Linked DNA regions of Homo sapiens: region 1 is linked to region 2. The links come from fine-mapping of genetic effects on gene expression. A gene starts in region 2. The other region holds a variant in brackets. All regions are shown on one strand. Distances are from middle to middle. Region 1 holds the start of FLVCR1 (FLVCR choline and heme transporter 1). Region 2 holds the start of NSL1 (NSL1 component of MIS12 kinetochore complex).

Region 1 (8,000 bases), 62 kb before region 2:
TGACAAGGTCGTTTGGAAAATTTTGTCCTTACAAAGAAATTTATAGCCCACTTCAATCCAAGACGGCCTCCTATTCAACGGCTTCATCTCCTCTTTTATAGACAAATACCTCCTGGGGCAGTTCATCCATACAGGCCATAGTTCTCACGGCCTATGACTTTTTCCGGTCTTTTAAGGATCTGACTTTCACCTACCACTCCAGTACTTACCTGATTGCCCAGCACGGCGGTGGCACAAGCTGTGGACACCTCTTTGGGCCCAAACCACACTGAGGCGATGCGGGAGGGCAAGCCCAGGATGAACACCTGGGCCACCGAGCACAAGCACTGGCCCAACATGGTGACCCAGAAGAGATGCTGCTGCACACTGCCGCACTTGATCCAGGCACCCAGGCAGTTGAGGCCGGAGCCCAGCAGGGCGGTGAGCCGCAGGCCTCTGGTGTCCAGCAGCCAGGTGGCCGGGAAGATGAGGGGCACGTAGGCCAGCATGTACACCATGGACAGCCAGTCGATGTGCAGCAAGGTGACACCGTAGAAGCCCTCGAAGACGTTGCTAATGATGCTGTACTGGATCCACTGAAAGGCGTTGACCAGCGAGTACAGGCTGAAGATCAGGAGCACCACGAAGCGCCGCGGGGAGAGCGCCGTAAGGGGCAGCGGGCTGCTCTCGGCCCCCGGGGTCTCAGCTCCCGCGCCCGCAGGCAGCAGCCGGGCCTGGGTCTCCTCTTCTGGGGCCAGTGGAGTCTGAGGCCCGCCCAGAACTCCCGAGGCGGCAGCGAGGCTGTCCCGGGGGGCCCCATTCACCGGGAAGGTGCCCGCTTTGGGCCCGTTCTGCAGCTCCACGCTCTCCTTCCCAACGGGCGCGCCCCTCGGCAACGGGAGGTATCCTTTCGCGAGCGGGTGTCCGGGCGCCACCGCCGCCCCCTCCTCATCGTCTGGCCGCGCCATATCCCAGGCTCCCCGGCGCCACCTCGCTCCCCCGCCCCACTCCCCGACTCCGCTCTCCCGGCCCACAGCCCGAGGTCCTCCTGGGGCCCCACCTCCAACCCCTCGGCCCACCGCTCCTTCCCCGGTGGCGCGCGCCGCGAACCGCAATCCGCGCTACCGCGTGAACAGATGAAGGTCTCCTCCCCCGCGCCGCGCGGCAGTCACCCCTTGTCTGGTCCCGCCCCTAGAGTCGCGCGTCCTGCATGACTACGGCCCTCCGGCCAATCAGCGTGCGCCTTTGTCCGGCGCGAGAGCCAGTCGGGGAGCTACCGGGCGAGAACTTCGGGAGGCGGGGGAGGAAAGCGGCCGGCGAGCGCTGGCTGACATTTTCCTGCCCGGAAGGATGCATGGCCCGGGGTCTCCTGCACCTGAGGGTGGGCGGGAGGCGGCCCCGCGGGTTGTGTTGCTGGAAAAAGGGGTCTCGATCCAGACCCCAAGAGAGGGTTCTTGGGTCTACTTCAGGGAAGAATTGGAGGCGAGTCACAGAGCGCAGTGAAGGAAGCAAGTTTATTGGAATCTACTCCGTTAGAGAGTGCAAGTCCTCAGACTGCAGGAGGAGGAACTCCCGTCCTTCGGTAGTGTCACTACTTAGAGGCAGCTGTGAGGAGCTGTGATTAATCGTGGAATGTGCTGATGTGCCCACTAAAGGTAGGGGCTGTTGGTGCACTAATGACCATTAATCCTTCAACCTAAGCCTGCGCATTGACGTTATCTCTGAGTAGAGGGCTGGGCCGGGCTCGGTGGCCACGTCTGTAATCCCAGCACTGTGGGAGGCCGGACAGGAGTCTCCCTTGAGCCCAGGAGTTCGAGACCAGCCTGGGCAACATACTGAGATGCCATCTATTTAAAAAAAAAAAAAAAAAAAAAAAAGCCAGTAGCCAGGCGTGGTGGTGCATGCCTGTAGTCCCAGCTACTCAGGAGGCTGAGGCAGGAGAACTACTTGAACCTGGGAGGCGGAGGTTGCAGTGAGCTGAGATCGCACCACACTGCCCTCCAGCCTAGCCTGGGCGACAAAGTGAGACCTTGTCTAAAAAAAAAAAAAAAACTCAGGACATCTGGACAATTCCGCAGACTTGGTGGGAGATGTCCTGTATGGCCATAAATATTGTGTAATTATAATTGTTGGTCAGCTTAGAATGCGGCTATTTTCAGACCTTTAGCATTAACCTTATAGGTGCCTTGTGAGTGCCTAGTTACTCACTTTAACATGCAGTCGCTCTAGCCATGTTTTATTAAACCAGATGCCTGGTAAGCAGTGGCTCCTCTAACAAGTGGGCAGCTTGGAACTGGGAACGAGAGAGCCACCGAAACAGAATGAGGGAGACAAAGAAGTGGGCATCACCCTTAACTCCACAAGGGCTTCCCAAGGGCGCTGTACCGTACGCAGGCCCAGGACGAACTTTATTTCTCGCCCCAGCATCGCTGTCCTTGTCGGTGAGACCCTGGCTTTAGGGCAGACAGGACCACGTTTCATAAGTTCATGCTGTCCCAGCAGAGGAATAACGCCAGAAAGTGTTCCAGTACAACCAGAGAAAGAGAGTCCATGAGAAATCTGCCCTTGTGAAGTTGGAATCCCCTCAACCTCACCCCGCTGACTTGAATGAAGCGACTGAGACGGGCTATGATGGAGCAGATCCGGTTGCTCGACCTTCTCCCTTGCACCAACACATGTAGTTAATAGTTACTGGACATGCATATTCAGTGGGTTCCAGGTACCAAACTTGTATTGAATGGTATGTGCCAGACACCGTCTTGAGATCTGGAGAATAAAAAAATAAAAAAATAAAAACGAGACATCCAGAGCACAGTAGCCTTGCGGTCTTCCTGGAACTAGAGAAAATTCAGCCCTTCTGCTCCTTGGGAAGCTATGTTTGGGAAAAAAAAAAAAAGAGAGAGAGAGAGACTCCAAAGAGTTTGTTATTAAATTTAAGTTCAAACTAGGTGTATATAGTACAAAAGTTCTTACCATGCATTTAATCTTAAAATGTGCTGATATCTAGAACCCTAAAACCCTGCACTTTTTTATTGCCTCTTACATTATTATTTTGGTCATGTATGAAATATATCAGGCATCTCTCGGTACAGGTGAAATGCTACATGTTCTAAACTAAGGAATAAGTGCATTATTATAATGTCTTCCTTGGCCAAACTGTATAAATCCCCCCCTCCGCCCGCCCCGGCCAACATCCCTTCCCTGCTTTTTTTTTTCTTTCTTTCCTAGTGCTTACCTTCACCTAAAATGTCCTATATTTTTACTTTTTTTTTCTGGTTATTTTCTTTCTTTCTTTTTTTTTTTGACAGTCTTGCTCTGTCACCCAGGCTGGAGTGCAGTGGCGCGATCTCGGCTCACTGCAACCTCCACCTCCCAGGTTCAAGCGATTCTTCTGCCTCAGCCTCCCGAGTAACTGGAACTACAGGCCCGCGCCATCATGCCTGGCTAATTTTTGTATTTTTCTTTAGTGGAGACAGGGTTTCACCATATTGGCCAGGCTGGTCTTGAACTCCTGACCTCGTGATCCGCCCGCCTCAGCCTCGCAAAGTGCTGGGATTACAGGCCTGAGCCACCGAGCCTGGCCTCTTTCTTTCTTTTCTTTCTTTCTCTCTCTCTTTCTTTCCTTCTCTCTCTCTCTCTCGGCTGACCACCAAGCCTGAGTACTTTTTGTATTTTTTGTAGAGATGGGGTTTTGCCACATTGCTCAGACTGGTCTCAACTGATCAGCTCACTTCGGCCTCCCAAAGTGCTAGGATTACAGGCATGAGCCATTGTGCTGGGCCTTTTTCTGGTTATTTTCTCCCTGCCCACTAGAATGTGAGTTCCATAAGGGCAGGGCTGAAAGTTTTGTTGCTTTTTGCTACCGCTACTATTTTTCAAGAATTTGTAACCAGTGTACTTTGTGCGAGTACCTAGCACATAGTAGCTGTTCAATAAATATTTACTGAGTACAGCTAATGAATACTGAATTACCGTGAATATTTTAAATAATTACTTGCTTTGTAAAGAAATCTATTTCTTCTCTCTGCCCAACTGCTGCTGCATCGCCATCACAGACACCAGCCATGTGCAGCCTATCTAGCTAGCCAGGGTCACCAAGGTCCTGGGCAGAACCAGCTCTCAGGGACAGTGCATGCGGGAATTTATGGAAGACACAAGCCACTCCATCATCCACAGTGTAAAAGACCCCATGCGCAAGGGCTATGTGCTCACCCTGTTGGAGTCAGAGCGAGAGGCCTGGAGGTTGCACTGAGCTTGGCTGCTCACTGGGTCTTGGATGTTGGGTTCGACCACTTGGTCCATGAGAATGCTGTGCCATGATCTGCTCCTTTATTTTATTTGCCAGCCGCACAGGAATTGAGATATGCATTTAAATAAAGTGTTTGTGTGCCAAATTAGAAAGAAAAGAAAGGAAAGAGACAAAGAAAGAAGAGAGAGAGAAAGAAAGAAAGAGAGAAAAAGAAAGGAAGGAAGGAAAAAAGGAGGGAGGAGAGAAGGAAGGAAATCTTTTTTTAAATTATTATTATTATTTTT[T/A]TTTTTTTTTTGAGACGGAGTTTCGCTCTTGTCACCCAGGCTGGAGTGCAGTGATGCGATCTCGGCTCACTGCAACCTCTGTTTCCGGGGTTCAAGCGATTCTCCCTCCTCAGCCTCTCAAGTAGCTGGGATTAAGGCGCCCACCACCACGTGAAATCTGTTTCTTAAAAAAAAAAAATCTTGGCCAGGTGCAGTGGCTTACGCCTGTAATCCCAGCACTTTAGGAGGCCGAGGCGGGTGGATCACGAGGTCAGGAGATCAAGACCATCCTGGCTAACACGGTGAAGCCCATCTCTACTAAAAATACAAAATATTAGCCGGGCATGGTGGTGGGCGCCTGTAGTCCCAGCTACTCGAGAGGCTGAGGCAGGAGAATAGCGTAAACCCAGGAGGTGGAGCTTGCAGTGAGCCGAGATCGCGCCACTGCACTCCAGCCTGGGCGATAGAGCGAGACTCCGTCTCAGAAAAAAACAAAAACAAAAACAAAAACAAAAAAAGTCTTGCAAACTTCCAGAAGGAAGGGAAGGAGGGAGTGAAATCTATTTCTTTCTCTTTTCCTTTTTCTTTTTTTGACACAGAGCTTTGCCCTTGGAGTCCAGGCTGGAGTGCAATGATGAAATCTCAGCTGACTGCAACTTCTGCCTCCCGGGTTCAAGTGATTCTCCTGCCTCAGCCTCCCAAGTAACTGAGATTACAGGTGCCCACACCCGGGTAATTTTTGTATTTTTAGTAGAGACAGGGTTTCTCCATGTCGGTCAGGCTGGTCTCGAACTCCTGACCTCAGGTGATCCACCTACCTCAGCCTCCCAAAGTGCTGGGGTTACAGGCATGAGCCACCGTGCCCGGCCACCATTCTAATTTCTTAATCTTGTCTTCTTTCTCTGGCTTCAGTGGTAGATATTTATTAACCAGTTTAAACATGAGTCATTATTTATATCAAATGTTTGGATGTATAACGTAAAATGAACCTTAATCTCTGTCAAAAAAGATACTACTGGGAGCATCGTTTGGCTGGGAGTCAAGATGAGATTGAGCTACTTTATGGGTGTGGAATGCCAAGTCAGAGAGATTTGAATAAGTAACACTTCAGCAATATGAGATCTGGACAGCATCCAGGAGCCAAGGTCCAAGATGCTAATAGGAGTGATGTAGCTGTCCCTGAACAAAGGTTTGCCACAGTTTACGAGCCTCAGAGGTTAAGATGCAAACCAGAACAATGCTATTGGATGTGCAATCCATGATGTTTCATGGGGAGGTGGGTAGATTTGGGCAACCTTGCCTTCAGTTTACTCCTACTAGCATCAGGCTCTGTCCACCTGATCAGCAGAGGCTATATGGTTCTATTTTGTGAAAAGATCAAGTTGGAAATGGAGGAGTAGAGGAGAAGGTTGGAAATCAGAATCCTCCCACATGTATTCTTCCCTCCATTGAGACATTTTATTTGTATATATTTATTCCTGAAAAAAAAAAAAAAAAAAGAGTCCCAGGATTTTTTCTCCTGTGTTTTTGTCTTGTTTCTTCTCGGTCCATGATGCCAGTTGAGGTCATCAGTACAGCGAAACCAAACTGGTGAGATGGGAACAAATTATTCTGTCACTTTTCTAGATCTTTTTATTTATTTTTTTATTTATTTTTTGAGATGGAGTCTCGCTCTTGTTGCCCAGTCTGGAGTGCAATGGCGAGCCTGGGTTCAAGACCAGCCTGGGTAACATGGCGAAACCCCTTCTCTACCAAAAAAATACAGTATTTAGCTGGGCCTGGTGCATGCCTGTAGTCCCAGCTACCTGAGAGGCTGAGGTGGGAAGATCGCTTGAGCCCAGGAGGTCAAGGCTGCAATGGGCTGAGATCACGCCACTCCAGCCTAGGCAACAGAGTGAGGCCTTGTCAAAAAAAAAAAAGAGAGAGAGAGAGATACAAGCCTTCAGAGACCCTCATATTAACTTCATGGTAAATCTGCCTCTGCTCACCCCTCCCACCTGTAGCAACTAATATCTTCATTTCCAGATTTACTCTGAAAAAACTGTGCAACTGCTTCACATGTTTCCTCTTGATTCACTAATTTGTAACTCACTTACTGAAACTCTGATGAAAGAATTGAGTCAAAAAATAAATAGACCTCCTTCCCAGCCCTGGCTTGTTCAGAGCATCTACTACAGAGGAGTCTTAAGGGTTTTGTATGCTTAGAGTTGAGAGACCAAATAGCTCCTGAAAACTGTAGCTAGAGGAAATGCCATATGGAGACAGGCCACAAGGAGAACTCAAGCCCCTGTAAACCAAAAATGAAATATTCTAAGCCCCCAATTTACTAAACAGATTCAACCTCCCACTTCAGCCTCCCAAATAGCTGGGATTACAGGCGCATGCAACCATGCCCGGCAAATTTTTGTGTTTTTTGTAGAGATGGGGTTTCGCCATGTTGGCCAGGCTGGTCTTGAACTCCTGACTTCAAGTGATCTGTCCACCTCACCCTCCCAAAGTGCTGGGATTAGTGAGCCACTGCAACAGCCCTCTAACACTTATTTCTGAAGTTTTTTTTCTTCCCTCCTTCTCGGAAGCCCCTTCCTCCCTCTCTTGTTGCCTTAAGGTACCTTCACCCTGGCTAGGCCCTATTGTTCTTTTATCGGTTTTTTGTTTGTTTCTTTAGCCTACATATGCTCTTCCACCTGGGTTATACAAATGCAAAGTACACCCTAGTTCCATGCTGGGCCTTATTATTAACAAGAACTTTCTGAATCTCTTAAGATGTAGTGAAAGCAGATATACATAAACTATGTTGAACTAAACTGTATTTTCTTTTTTTTATTTCACTTTAAAAATTTATTTTCATACCAAAAAAATCATTCAAAGACAGTATTAAAAAGGATGACAAAATACATAAAATTGGCAGATGTCTTACACTAAAATAAAGTTGGTTTTCCCAGATCTGAATGGTTTTATACTACTTGATATTCCCAATTGGTCCTGAAATAAACTCCATACCCTCCCTAATACTATCTGAATGGCACTAATATTTTACTATATTAATATTCGAATGGCGATTTGGAAGGGAGAGGTCTCACTCACAGGTATCTTCTTTTTTTTTTTTTTTTTTTTTTTTACTCCAATTTTTACTTTTCTTTTTTTTTTTTATTATACTTTAAGTTTTAGGGTACATGTGCACATTGTGCAGGTTAGTTACATATGTATACATGTGCCATGCTGGTGCGCTGCACCCACTAACTCGTCATCTAGCATTAGTTATATCTCCCAATGCTATCCCTCCCCCCTCCCCCCACCCCACCACAGTCCCCAGAGTGTGATATTCCCCTTCCTGTGTCCATGTGATCTCATTGTTCAATTCCCACCTATGAGTGAGAATATGCGGTGTTTGGTTTTTTGTTCTTGCGATAGTTTACTGAGAATGATGGTTTCCAGTTTCATCCATGTCCCTACAAAGGACAAAGACACAACATACCAGAATCTCTGGGACGCATTCAAAGCAGTGTGTA
Region 2 (11,935 bases):
CCCATTTCTCTACCTCCAATGCTAGTACTCTGGTCCCATCCAGCATCATTTGTAGCCTTCTAACTTTTTCCCCTTTTCATTTTTTACCCTCTTCAAAACTCACTCTTCATACCTTAGCCAAGGGGTTTTTTTTCTTCACCAAACTCATTTTGGCCAGAGCCAAGAGGATCTTTTTAAAACATAAATTACGTCTTGGTACTTCTCACATTAAACCCTCCACTGCATGTAAACTAAAATCCAACAAGGTCCTGTATGAGATCTCCACCCATCCCTCTTACCCCATCACTATCACTTCCTCTCTTTCTCTAGCCATATGAGCCCTCTTTCTGTTTCTTGACTACACTGAGCTTATTCCTACCTTGGGACCTTTGTGCTTTGCTGTTTCCTTTGCACATAACACCCTGATCCTCTCTTTGCATGGCCAGTTCCTTTGTAGCATTCAGGTTGCAGCTCAATTGTCACTACCAGAGTCCTTCCTTGATGATATCATCTAACAATCAGCATTCACAACACCTACTATATAATCTTGTTTTACTGTCTTCAAAGCACTTAGTGCTATCGAAAGTTTTCCTGCTCATGTAATTGTTGACTGTCTGTCTGGGCCATCTAGAATCTAGCTTCCATGAGCAGGATCTTACTCATTATTGGGTCTGCAGTGCTGACAGCAGTGCCTGGCATGTAGCAGGTGCTCAGTACACACTGGTTGACTACCTAACTAAATGAATGTCTATTAGTATAAATCCCCACATAAATGAAAGAAGTGCTGCCTTGCTATGATTCCACATTTGTAGAATTGTGATTGGCAATGTAGCTAATTTTATCATACTTAACAATTCAGGATAGCTACAGGATAAGCATTTTTACCTGAAATGAATGAATTTTCTTTTCTTTTTTTTTTTTTTTTTTTTTTGAGTTTTTGAGAGATAGCGTCCATGTTGCCCAGGCTGGTCTTGAACTCCTGAGCTCAAGTGGTCCTCCCATCTCGGCCTCCCAAAGTGTTAGGATTACAGGTGTGAGCCACCATGCCTGGTCATGAATTTTATTTTGAAATAAGTAGAGCTAGCTACCTAAGGTATCTTAATATAGGAAGAGAGATACATTATTATTATTATTTTTTTTTTGAGATGGAGTCTCACTCTGTCACCCAGGCTGGAGTGCACTGGAGCAATCTCAGCTTACTACAATCTTCGCCTCCTGGGTTCAAACGATTCTCCCACCTTAGTCTCCCGAGTAGCTGGGACTACAGGTGCACGCCACCACACCTGGATAAGTTTTTGTATTTTTAGTACAGACAGGGTTTCACCATGTTAGCCAGGAAGGTCTCAATCTCCTGACCTCATGATCCACCCACCTCAGCCTACCAAAGTGCTGGGATTACAGGCACGAGCCACTGTGTCCAGCCTACATTATTATTTTTTAAATGGCACTATATCTTAATTTATTCATAGGTAACAAAAAGTCATTACTTCTTTGAAATGGGGCTATCAAACCCATTATGCAATAAAACACTCATGAAACTGTGGATCTTCCTGATGCTGAGTCAGGAGACAAGTGTGAAATATAAGACATACCAACTATCGTGAGTCAGTGCGGGTAGGATGTTTTTAGAGAGGGTACAAAATCAGTGCAATTTAATAGCTGGAGAGCAATCCTGTAACAATGGTTCTATGTTCAAAGATAATACTACTTACTTGAACTAATCTGTTCCCTAATAGTATATGGCACCTCTGAATTTGTATCTTTCTTTTTCTAGATATTCTATCACTTTTTTGCCAAAGCAACATGACTACAGTACCAAAAAAATGTGAAAAAAGTTACAGATAATTCTAACAGATCATCACAATTACTATCATTTCTGTGTTTTCTCTGCAGTCTTTTCCTTATGAATATATGCTTATGTAGATGTCACTCATAGTGAATATGCTATTTGGTATCCTGCTTTTCTCCCTATATTATACAGTAAGTATTTTCCATGTGCTATAATACTTTATAATCCTCATTTTCTATAAATGCATTATATTTAACACTCTACAACTTAACTAATGATTCCTTTGTTTCTGAACCTCTAGGCTGTTTCTACTTTTTCTCTATTACGAATAATGTTGCAACAAACATCTTTGTTAAAGAAGGTAATGTTTCCTTCTTTTGGATTATTTCCTGAGAATATAAATTAGAAAGAGGAGGATTACTGAGTCAAATAATTCTTTCGTTTGTTTGTTTTTAATGGTTCCTGTTTTGTATGACTGTTACCTTTAGTGTGACACTTCTTTGGTCTTCTGGTGGAAGTCCTTGAACTGGATGAACACCCAAGCATGGCAGGACAAACCCATTATACCTAAAAATGTAGAACCAACTGAGAAAGCAGGAACAGTAGACTAGTAGATTACAACGTATTCTAAAGAATAAGTAGAGGTCGGGCATGGTGGCTTATGTCTGTAATTCCAGCACTTTGGGAGGCTGAACCAGGTGGATCACTTAAGGCCAGGAGTTTGAGACCAGCCTGGCCAACATGGTGAAATCCTGTATCTACAAAAAATATAAAAATTAGCCAGGCCTGGTGGTGCATGCTTTAGACCCAGCTACTTGGGAGGCTGAGGCAGAGAATTGCTTGAAACCAGGAGGCAGAGGTTGCAGTGAGCCAACATTGCGCCACTGCACTCCAGCTTGGGTGACAGAGCAAGACTCCATCTCTCAAAGAAAAAAAAAAGGAATAAGTAGAAAATAATCTCTTTAGGGCTATGTTAAAATGCTTTTTCCTCTTTATTCTCTTTAAAAATGGATCTTTGATATTATAAACTGGATGTCATAACTGTGTTCTTATTAGCAACCCTTTAAAATCTTAATTAAAAGTAGCACCTTTCTGAAAGTTGCATAATCTTTTCAAATTCTCCTGAATGTTCGGCAACTGCCACAAGGGCCACAACATTGGCCTGAAAAAAAAAAAAAGAATAAAGTTACAAACAATATACATTTAATATAAATTATAGAAAATTTTAAAGTTTTCTCTGCATTTTAGTTATCCTTGTTCAGCCATGCTTCATCAATACAATCAGAAGGGCTATCATTGAGTATTTACTATGTTTCAGACCTTATGTTCAGTGAATATAAATATTGCCTCATTTAATTTACAGAAACCTATAAAGTAGGCTATAGTCTACTGTATAGATCAGGAGACAGAGTTTTGGATGTCGAATAACTTGCCCAAGGTCATCAGGTCTATATATGTCCAAAGCCCACATTCCTAATTAAGCTGCCACAGTGAAAGTTACCTGTATGTAAAAATGCACTACAACCATTTCTGGCTGTATCATTTTTTGAGATGGCCACAAAATGCTAGTTACAATGAATTTCATAAACACTTCCAAAAAAATAATTTTTCTAAGCAAATCAAAACATCTCAGAAAACTTTAATAATATATCCCAGATCTCCAGAACCACATGAATTTAAAAACTGAAAGATGGACCAATTTGTTCCATAGGGCTGTTGAGCATGGTAGCTATAGGAACATGTTTTGAATTCAGACTAACTTGTCTCTATCAGTTCACTAGCATGTGTCTTTGGACCAGTTACTCATCTCTAGGCCTTAGATTCCTCATCTATAAAAATGGGGAATGATTGGCTATAAATTAGTAATTTCCTCAGAAGGCTATTGTGAAACATTGAATGAGGTAAAGTCGAGAAAGGCCTTAGCTCACTACCTGGCATGTAGCAAACACTTAATAAATGCTACTTAGGCTGGGAGCAGTGCCGCATGCCTATAATCCCAGCATTTTGGGAGCCCAAGGTGGGTAGATTGCTTGAGCTCAGAAGTTTGACACCAGCCTGGGCAATATAGTCAGATCTTGTCTCTATTTTAATTATAAATAATAAAAATTGGCTGGTCGTAGTGGGTCACGCCTGCAATCTCAGCACTTTGGGAGGTCGAGGTGGGCAGATCACCTCAGGTCAGGAGTTCAAGACCAGCCTGGCCAACATGGTGAAACCCTGTCTCTACTAAAAATACAAAAATTATCTGGGTGCAGTGACGTGTGCCTATAGTCCCAGCTACTCAGGAGGCTGAGGCAGGAGAATCACTTGAACCTTGGAGGCAGAGGTTGCAGTGAGCTAAGATCACACGACTGCACTCCAGCCTGGGCGACAGAGCGAGACTCTGTCTCAATAAATAAATAAATAAATAAATAAAATAATAAAAATAAAAAATGCTACTTACTATAAACTACTGAAACATCAAGGTAGTATATCTAAATTTCAAGCTGTTTTGGCTTGAAATGATAGTTAAAATAAAAAACCAAAAGAGCAATTACAAATATTGACTTACCTTCTTGGCTTTCTCCAACACATCATCCAAATCCTAAAACAAGCATAAGAAATCACCATTATTTTAGATGAATAAGCAGCTAATCTTGGACTGTATATGTCAATGTAGTTGTGGCATCACAAAAAATAACAATGATAGCAACTAATGGAGTGGTGGAAAACAAAGAGCCTACACTGACCCACTTCCTGTTTACTCTTACTATCAGTAAAGTCTGGCTACTGTTCCCAGCACTAAAACAGAAGCCTCTATTGTCAAATATACAGGGTATTTCTCTGTCCTCATCTTACTCTACTCCTCAGCAGCATTCGGAATCCCTCACTTGCTTACTCCTTCCTTCTTGAAATGCTTTCCACCCTTCACTTCTGCAATACCACTCTCTCATTGGTGGCTACTTGTCAGTCTCCTTGACTAGCTCCCCTTCCTCTTTCAGACTTCAAGAACATCTGCTCCTCTCTCTGCACTTGCCTTGAGTGATTTCACTTCCTCTCATGGTTTTATCATCATTATGCTGAGGCCCCCATTTTTTTTCTTTTTTTTGAGATGAAGTTTCACTCTTGTCTCCCAGCTGTAGTGCAATGGTGCGATCTCGGCTCATTGCCACCTCTGCCACCCGGGTTCAAGTGATTCTCCTGCTTCAGCCTCCAGAGTAGCTGGGATTACAGGTGACCGCCACCACACTCAGCTAAATTTTGTATTTTTAGTAGAGATGGTGTTTCACCATGTTGGCCAAGCTGGTCTTTAACTCCTGATCTCAGGTGACCCACCCACCTTGGCCTCCCAAAGTGCTGGGACTACAGGTGTGAGCCATCGAACCCAGCCTGAGTCCCCAATTTTTTTTTTTTTTTTTGAGATGGAGTCTCGCTCTGTCACCCAGGCTGGAGTGCAGTGTCACGATCTCGGCTCACTGCAAGCTCCGCCTCCCGGGTTCACACCATTCTCCTGCCTCAGCCTCCCAAGTAGCTGGGACTACAGGCACATGCTGCCATGCCCAGCTAATTTTTTTGTACTTTTAGTAGCGACAGGGTTTCACCATGTTAGCCAGGATGGTCTCGATCTCCTAACCTTATGATCTGCCCACCTCGGCCTCCCAAAGTGCTGAGATTACAGGCATGAGCCACTGCGCCCGGCCCCCAATTTTTATCTTTAGCTTGTAATTCTCTCCTGAGCCCATGACTCATGTTTAAAAATTATGACATCTTCATTTGGATGGGATTAGGTTTCCCAATATGCCCCAAACATAAATCTTTATTTTCTCCCCACAAACCTATTCCTTCTGCTGACCTCCCCACCTCCACCTCAGACCTTGGTCTTCCCTTATCTCAGTAAACCAGCACCACCATCTTCCCTATAGCACAAGCTAATAATCTGAGTCATCCTTGACTCCTCCCTTTCCCTTGCTATCCACATCCAATTCTTCAGTACTTACTGTGGATTCTCTCTCTAAAATGTATCTTGAATCCATGTATTCATCTCAAACTCACCTGCTATCATCATAGTACCAACAGCCAACATCTCTTGCCTATATACTGCAAAAGCCTCCTAACTAGTCTTGTAGCTTCCACTCTTCTCCTCCACCCATTTGCCATACAGCAGCAAAATGGTGTTAAAATGGATAGCATCATGCCTATCCATTTTTGTGTAATCCCAGGACTTTGGGAGGCCAAGGAGGGTTGATCACTTGAGGCCAGAAGTTCAAGACCAGCCTGGACAACATGGCAAAACTCTGTCTCTATTAAAAATACAAAAAATTAGCCAGGCGTGGTGGGACACACCTGTGATCCCAGCTACTTGGGAGGCTGAGACAGGAGAATTTTTTGAGCCCAGGAGGTGGAGGTTGCAATGACCTGAGATCATGCTATTGCATTTCAGCCTGAGGGACACAGCCAGACTCAATCTAAAAAAATAAAAAAATGAAAATAAATTTTAAAAAAGCCCTTTAATGAATCTGCATTGTGCTTCAAATGCAATCCAAATTCCTTACTGACCCACCTCATCTATCCCCTGCAAACCTCCCCAGTTTTGTTTCATGCCTTTCTCTTTCTAGCTCATCAGGCTCCACTTAGCTTTTTGGCAACTGAAATGTGCCAAATTCTAGCTTGTCTGGGGGCCTGCAACCTATCTGTTTCCCTAACCAGCATACACTCACCCCCTTGCTTGGGTGGCTCCTTGTCTTTTCAGCCTTAAGTGTCAGCTCCTGGGAGGATTTCCCCCTGAAATAAAACCCCCCTTAATCCTCTATTATTAGTCTCTAGTTTCCCACGTAATGGGTAAAACAGTTTGTAACTGATTTTACGTGTGTATTATTATTTTAATTGAGACGGGGTCTCACCACATTGCCCAGGCTGGTCTCAAACTCCTGGGCTCAAGCGATCCACCCACTTCGGCCTCTCATAGTGCTAGGATTACAAGTGTGAGCAACCACACTCGGCCATGTATTTTTGTTTGTTTGTTTGCCTCTCTCCCCCATTTGTGAATTTTTTTTTTTTTTTTTTTTTGAGACAGGGTCTCACTGTTACCCAGGCTGGAGTGCAGTGGCTTGATGTCAGCTCACTGCAACCTCCACCTCCTGGGCTCCAGCGATTCTCCCACCTCAGCCTCCCGAGTAGCTGGGACCACAGGCAAACGCCACAATCACCGGCTTTTTTTTTTTTTTTGTAGGGACGAGGTTTCACCATGTTGCCCAGGCTGGTCACGATCTCCTGGACACAGGAGATGCGCAGCGCCCGCCTCGGCCTCCCAAAGTGCTGGGATTACGGGCGTGAGCCCGCGCCCGACCTCTCCCCGATTTGAACGCGTTTCGAGGACCGCTTCCCACAAAGAGTGGCATCTCAGCCAGGAGGTGAGAGCCCCGAGGGGAAAAACAGGCCAGCCAAGGGGAGTGAGGGAACGATTCCAGGAACTCAGAAGAGCAAACAAAAGCCTTGTGGAGATAGCTTACCGCTACTGAATCAGGAAAAAAAAATCGGTATGTCTGAGGTTAAATAGGGAATAGGGAAATGAGGGGCAAGGTCATATGGCCATAAACAAGGGTCTGGGCGGGGGATATGGGGTTTCGTCCCAAGGGAGGAGAGCAAAGATAACACGAGGGGAAAGGACGGGGGCCTCCCTGCTCCCTCTGGTCCCGTATCGCCCTCACATACGCGGTCAAAGTCCGGGGCGGAGAGGTGGCAGTGACAGTCCACCAAGCCTACGCCAGCCGCTCGCATTGCGCCCCGGCGGCTGCCGCTTTAGACCGGCCAGCAGAGCCGGAGCCGGAACGTTTCAGCTGCAGCGTCCTGAGTTTCCAGCCGGATGCATGCTGGTTACACCAGTGTGAACCCGCTTTTCCGCTCCCAGAGTGCCCCGCCCACAGTTCCGACGAAAAATGGCGGGGTCTCCTGAGTTGGTGGTCCTTGACCCTCCATGGGACAAGGAGCTCGCGGCTGGCACAGAGAGCCAGGCCTTGGTCTCCGCCACTCCCCGAGAAGACTTTCGGGTGCGCTGCACCTCGAAGCGGGCTGTGACCGAAATGCTACAACTGTGCGGCCGCTTCGTGCAAAAGCTCGGGGACGCTCTGCCGGAGGAGATTCGGGAGCCCGCTCTGCGAGATGCGCAGTGGGTACGGGACCAGTTAGCCAGTTCTTTACTCATCATCCTCTTACCCAACACCCAGGATCTTAGGATTCAGAAAGATCCCACGCCAGGCCTTGGCAGAATTAACGGTGCCCCAGGCTACTGTAGAACCAGTTCGAGAAACGCTAGAGGAGAAAGAAATAGATGCTAATGTCAGCTGGGTCTTATTAATTACTTAGACCAGCGCTGTCCAGTGAAAATACAAGGCAAGCTAATCTTTATGTAGTTTTAAACTAAAAGTAAGAAATAGGTGAAGTTAATGGAAATAAGACATTTTGTTTAACCCAATAAATCCAAGGTATTTTAACATGTAATAATATCAAATGAATGAGATATTTTACATTCTTTTGTTCGTACTAAGCTTTTCAAATCTGGTGTGCTGCATTTACGGCACATCTTCGAACTAGTTACATTTAAGCGCTCAGTAACTACAAAGTGGCTAGTGGCTCACCTGTTGGACAATGCAGCCGCAGACAATGAGGAATTCTCCTGGAAAGGGTAATTCTGGAAGTCAGCCATTCACCCAAGCAGCATTTGATCTTTCCTTTTGCATGTTTTATTTATTTATTTATTTTATTTTATTTTTTTTTTTTGAGACAGAGTCTCGCTCTGTCGCCCAGGCTGGAGTGCAGTGGCGCGATCTCGGCTCACTGCAAGCTCCGCCTCCTGGGTTCACGCCATTCTCCTGCCTCAGCCTCCTGAGTAGCTGGGACTCCAGGCGCCTGCCACCACGCCCGGCTAATTTTTTTGTGTTTTTAGTAGAGACAGGGTTTCACCGTGTTAGCCAGCATGGTCTCGATCTCCTGACCTCGTGATCCGCCCGCCTTGGGCTCCCAAAGTGCTGGTATTACAGGCGTGAGCCACCTCGCCCGGCCTATTAACCTTTATTTTTACTGTTTGCACTGTGGTCATTCATAACTCACAAATGTGCGGTATTATGAGCTTTTAAATTTTTTCCGCTAATATAAGTAGATTGGTGCCTGTTATAAGGAAGCACACAATCCCTTTATTTCTTGTGTTCCCAAAAAACTACCACCTTCAGGGCTTTGCAAAAATATTTAAGAAAGGCTTGGGAAATGTGGTATAGAGGCAAATGTATGATCTTAGTAAAGTTTTCAACCAACACAATTTTTTTTAACCTATTTTAGTCTTGTAAAGAAAATGTTTTCACTCTAAAACAGGCAAAAGGGGTCGGGCGCGGTGGCTCACGCCTGTAATCCCAGCACTTTGGGAGGCCGAGGCGGGCGGATCACGAGGTCAGGAGATCGAGACCATCCTGGCTAACATGGTGAAACCCCGTCTCTACTAAAACAATAATAATAATAATACAAAAAATTAGCCGGCCATGGTGGCAGGCACCTGTAGTCCCAGCTACTCGGGAGGCTGAGGCAGGAGAATGGCGTGAACCCGGGAGGCGGAGCTTGCAGTGAGCCCAGATCTCGCCACTGCACTCCAGCCTGGGTGACAGAGCGAGACTCCATCTCAAAAAAAAAAGGTTCAGTGGAAGAATGAAGAAACACTTCCTGGGTTGTGACTCTGTATGTAGTTTTGTATATAGTGACTCTTACGTCATTCCCTCCTTGCAAGCAAGGCAAGAATAGGGATATATCTCAGGACGTTTTTAGTAGTTTTTTGGGAGAAGACTTTTGTTGTATAATCTTAGAATTTGTCTGATTCTAGGAAATGCTAAGGTATTTAAAACATTTAGGTGTCTTACAGAAAAAGAGGAACTTGGCTTAACCTATTATATCCTATTTAGTGGGACGATAAAGTGAATTATAAGATAAAGTTTACAGGGCTTAGACTACCACAGGAATTCACTTGTGTTTTATTTTAAATAAAGCAGAAGCTTTATTTTGTATCTCTGTTTAAAACTGCATATTAAGTAGCAGATTTTCTTTAAAAACAGTATTGGTAGCAGTCTGCAATGAATGTTACAAAGACAATATGTTTTCTCAGCAATTCTTGAAAGTAATTCTAGAAAATAATTTTAAAACATACATAGGCCGGGCGCGATGGCTTACGCCTGTAATCCCAGCACTTTGGGAGGCTGAGGCGGGCGGATCACCTGAGGTCAGGAGTTCCAGACCAGCCTGGCCAACACGGTGAAACCCTGTCTATACTAAAAATACAAAAATTAGCCGGGTGTGATGGCGCTTGCCTGTAATCCCAGCTATTCGGGAGACTGAGGCAGGAGAATCGCTTGAACCTGGGAAGCGGAGGTTGCAGTGAGCCAAGATTGCGCCATTGCACTCCAGCCTGGTTGACAAGAGTGAAACTCCATCTCAAAAAAAACAAAAAACAAACAAACAAAAAATAAAATAAGGATTTTACTTTATGAAATCTTTGAAATGTAGAATATGTACTTTAACTCATAATTATCAGTAATTTGGTTTATGTTATTTTTAATTATACAAAGGGTACAAAATATATGCTCATAAAAAAATTCAAACAGTAGCATAAAGCAAAATTCTTTGAGTTCCCCTTCCCCATCCCTCTTCCTTCTAGGACATAAGGTACTATTTTGGAGAGTACTTGGGGAGAGTAAACTTTCTATACCCCCTTTCTGTGGCTTTACCTCTTTCTCTCTGTTTATGTTTGTTTGTCTCCATTAATAATGTCATGCTGATGAATTGTTATTGACCTGCCTTTTTTGAAACCAAACATGTCTATTATTTGTTAGTGTTACGTAGAGCTTGTCTTCATCCTTTTTAGGTACTGCGTGGTATGAATATTGTCTATTTAACTCTTCTAATTTTGACTTTAGGTTTTTTCCCACAATTTTAAAAATTTCAAACAGTGCTGAAATGAACATTTCTAGCACATTCTCTTTAGTTTTTATGAGAGTAGTCCTTTAGGATGCATTGCTAGAAGTGAAATTGTTGGGTAATAGGAAATGTGTACTGCCGAATTCCTTTAGTCCATCATTTAAAAAAAATTTTGATGAAGTCCAATTTGTCTATTTTTTGTTTGTTTTTGTTTTTTGTTTTTTGGTTCTTTATCTTTTAATGTATTATGAACATTTTCAACCTTACAAAAAATTAGTTTAGTACAGTGGACACCCATATATCCACCACCAAACTCAACAGTTGTCAAAATTTTGTTACAGTTGCTTCTCCCTCTGTCTCCCAGGCTGGAGTACAGTGGCAATCATAGCTCACTGTATTCTCAAACCACTGGGCTCAAGTAATCCTCTAGCCTCAGCCTTTCAAGTAGCCGGGACTACAGGCATGTGCCACTGTGCCTGGCTAATTTTTAAATTTTTTAGTAGAGAAGGTTGTCTCAGTGTGTTGCCTAGGCTGGTCTGGAACTGGCCTCAAGCAATCCTCTTGCCTTGGCTTCCCAAAGTGATGGGATTATAGGCGTGAGCCACTGCACCTGGCCTACGTTTGCTATTTTAAAGCATATCTTAGATCTCATGTCATTTCATCGCTACATAAGTGTTCATCTCTCAAAAATACAGCCCTTTATAAAATATAATTTTATTTTTAAGCATGTATGTTTTCCCTCTTGTTAACATCAACAGTCATTCAGCAGCATATATAGTACTTATACCCCTGAGATTCAACTGAGCCTAAATTTGTTAGATTTTATTTTTTCTTTCATTCTAGGAGTACTTTTTTTTGTTTGTTTATAAGAATATTCCAAAATTTTAAATCAGATTTTCTCTTGGGTAGCATAATGGCTATGAGACCCAAAATGTAGGTAGAATCAATGATTGAAGTGGAATCTTCATTGAAAAGAATAGATATACTAATTAGCTATTCTGCTACTTTTATTTCCTCTGTCACAAATCTGGAAGTATTATTTTGCTAAAACGTTTGAATTTAGTATTTAAAATTATTTTTAGTGACTTGACTACTGTGAATTTATTGCAGACTTTTGAATCAGCTGTGCAAGAGAATATCAGCATTAATGGGCAAGCATGGCAGGAAGCTTCAGATAATTGTTTTATGGGTATGTGACTTTTTCCTTCCATTATTAATTTCTGGGTTATTTTTGCA

Evidence for each region.
Region 1: its variant is fine-mapped to the expression of NSL1 in monocytes after interferon gamma (Fairfax 2014, PIP 0.94).

The regions. Positions count from the first base shown.
Region 1 is chr1:212,851,400-212,859,399 of GRCh38, reverse strand. It overlaps FLVCR1 (FLVCR choline and heme transporter 1), which reads right to left and starts at 1,125. Exons shown (of 10, transcript NM_014053.4): 1 at 210-1,125. The coding sequence starts at 947. FLVCR1-DT (FLVCR1 divergent transcript) reads left to right here and starts at 1,262. Exons shown (of 2, transcript NR_027286.1): 1 at 1,262-1,634; 2 at 2,482-2,796. It also overlaps the pseudogene RPS28P2. RefSeq lists silencers at 675-884, 965-1,024 and an enhancer at 6,825-7,412. The variant T/A (reference allele first, on the strand shown) is at 4,513.
Region 2 is chr1:212,787,512-212,799,446 of GRCh38, reverse strand. NSL1 (NSL1 component of MIS12 kinetochore complex) reads left to right here and starts at 7,670. Exons shown (of 6, transcript NM_015471.4): 1 at 7,670-7,917; 2 at 11,810-11,888. The coding sequence starts at 7,684. TATDN3 (TatD DNase domain containing 3) reads right to left here and starts at 7,553. Exons shown (of 10, transcript NM_001042552.3): 1 at 7,460-7,553; 2 at 4,320-4,352; 3 at 2,857-2,930; 4 at 2,251-2,335. The coding sequence starts at 7,525. RefSeq lists enhancers at 4,492-4,541, 4,882-4,951, 4,830-5,330, 7,465-7,744, 8,219-8,997.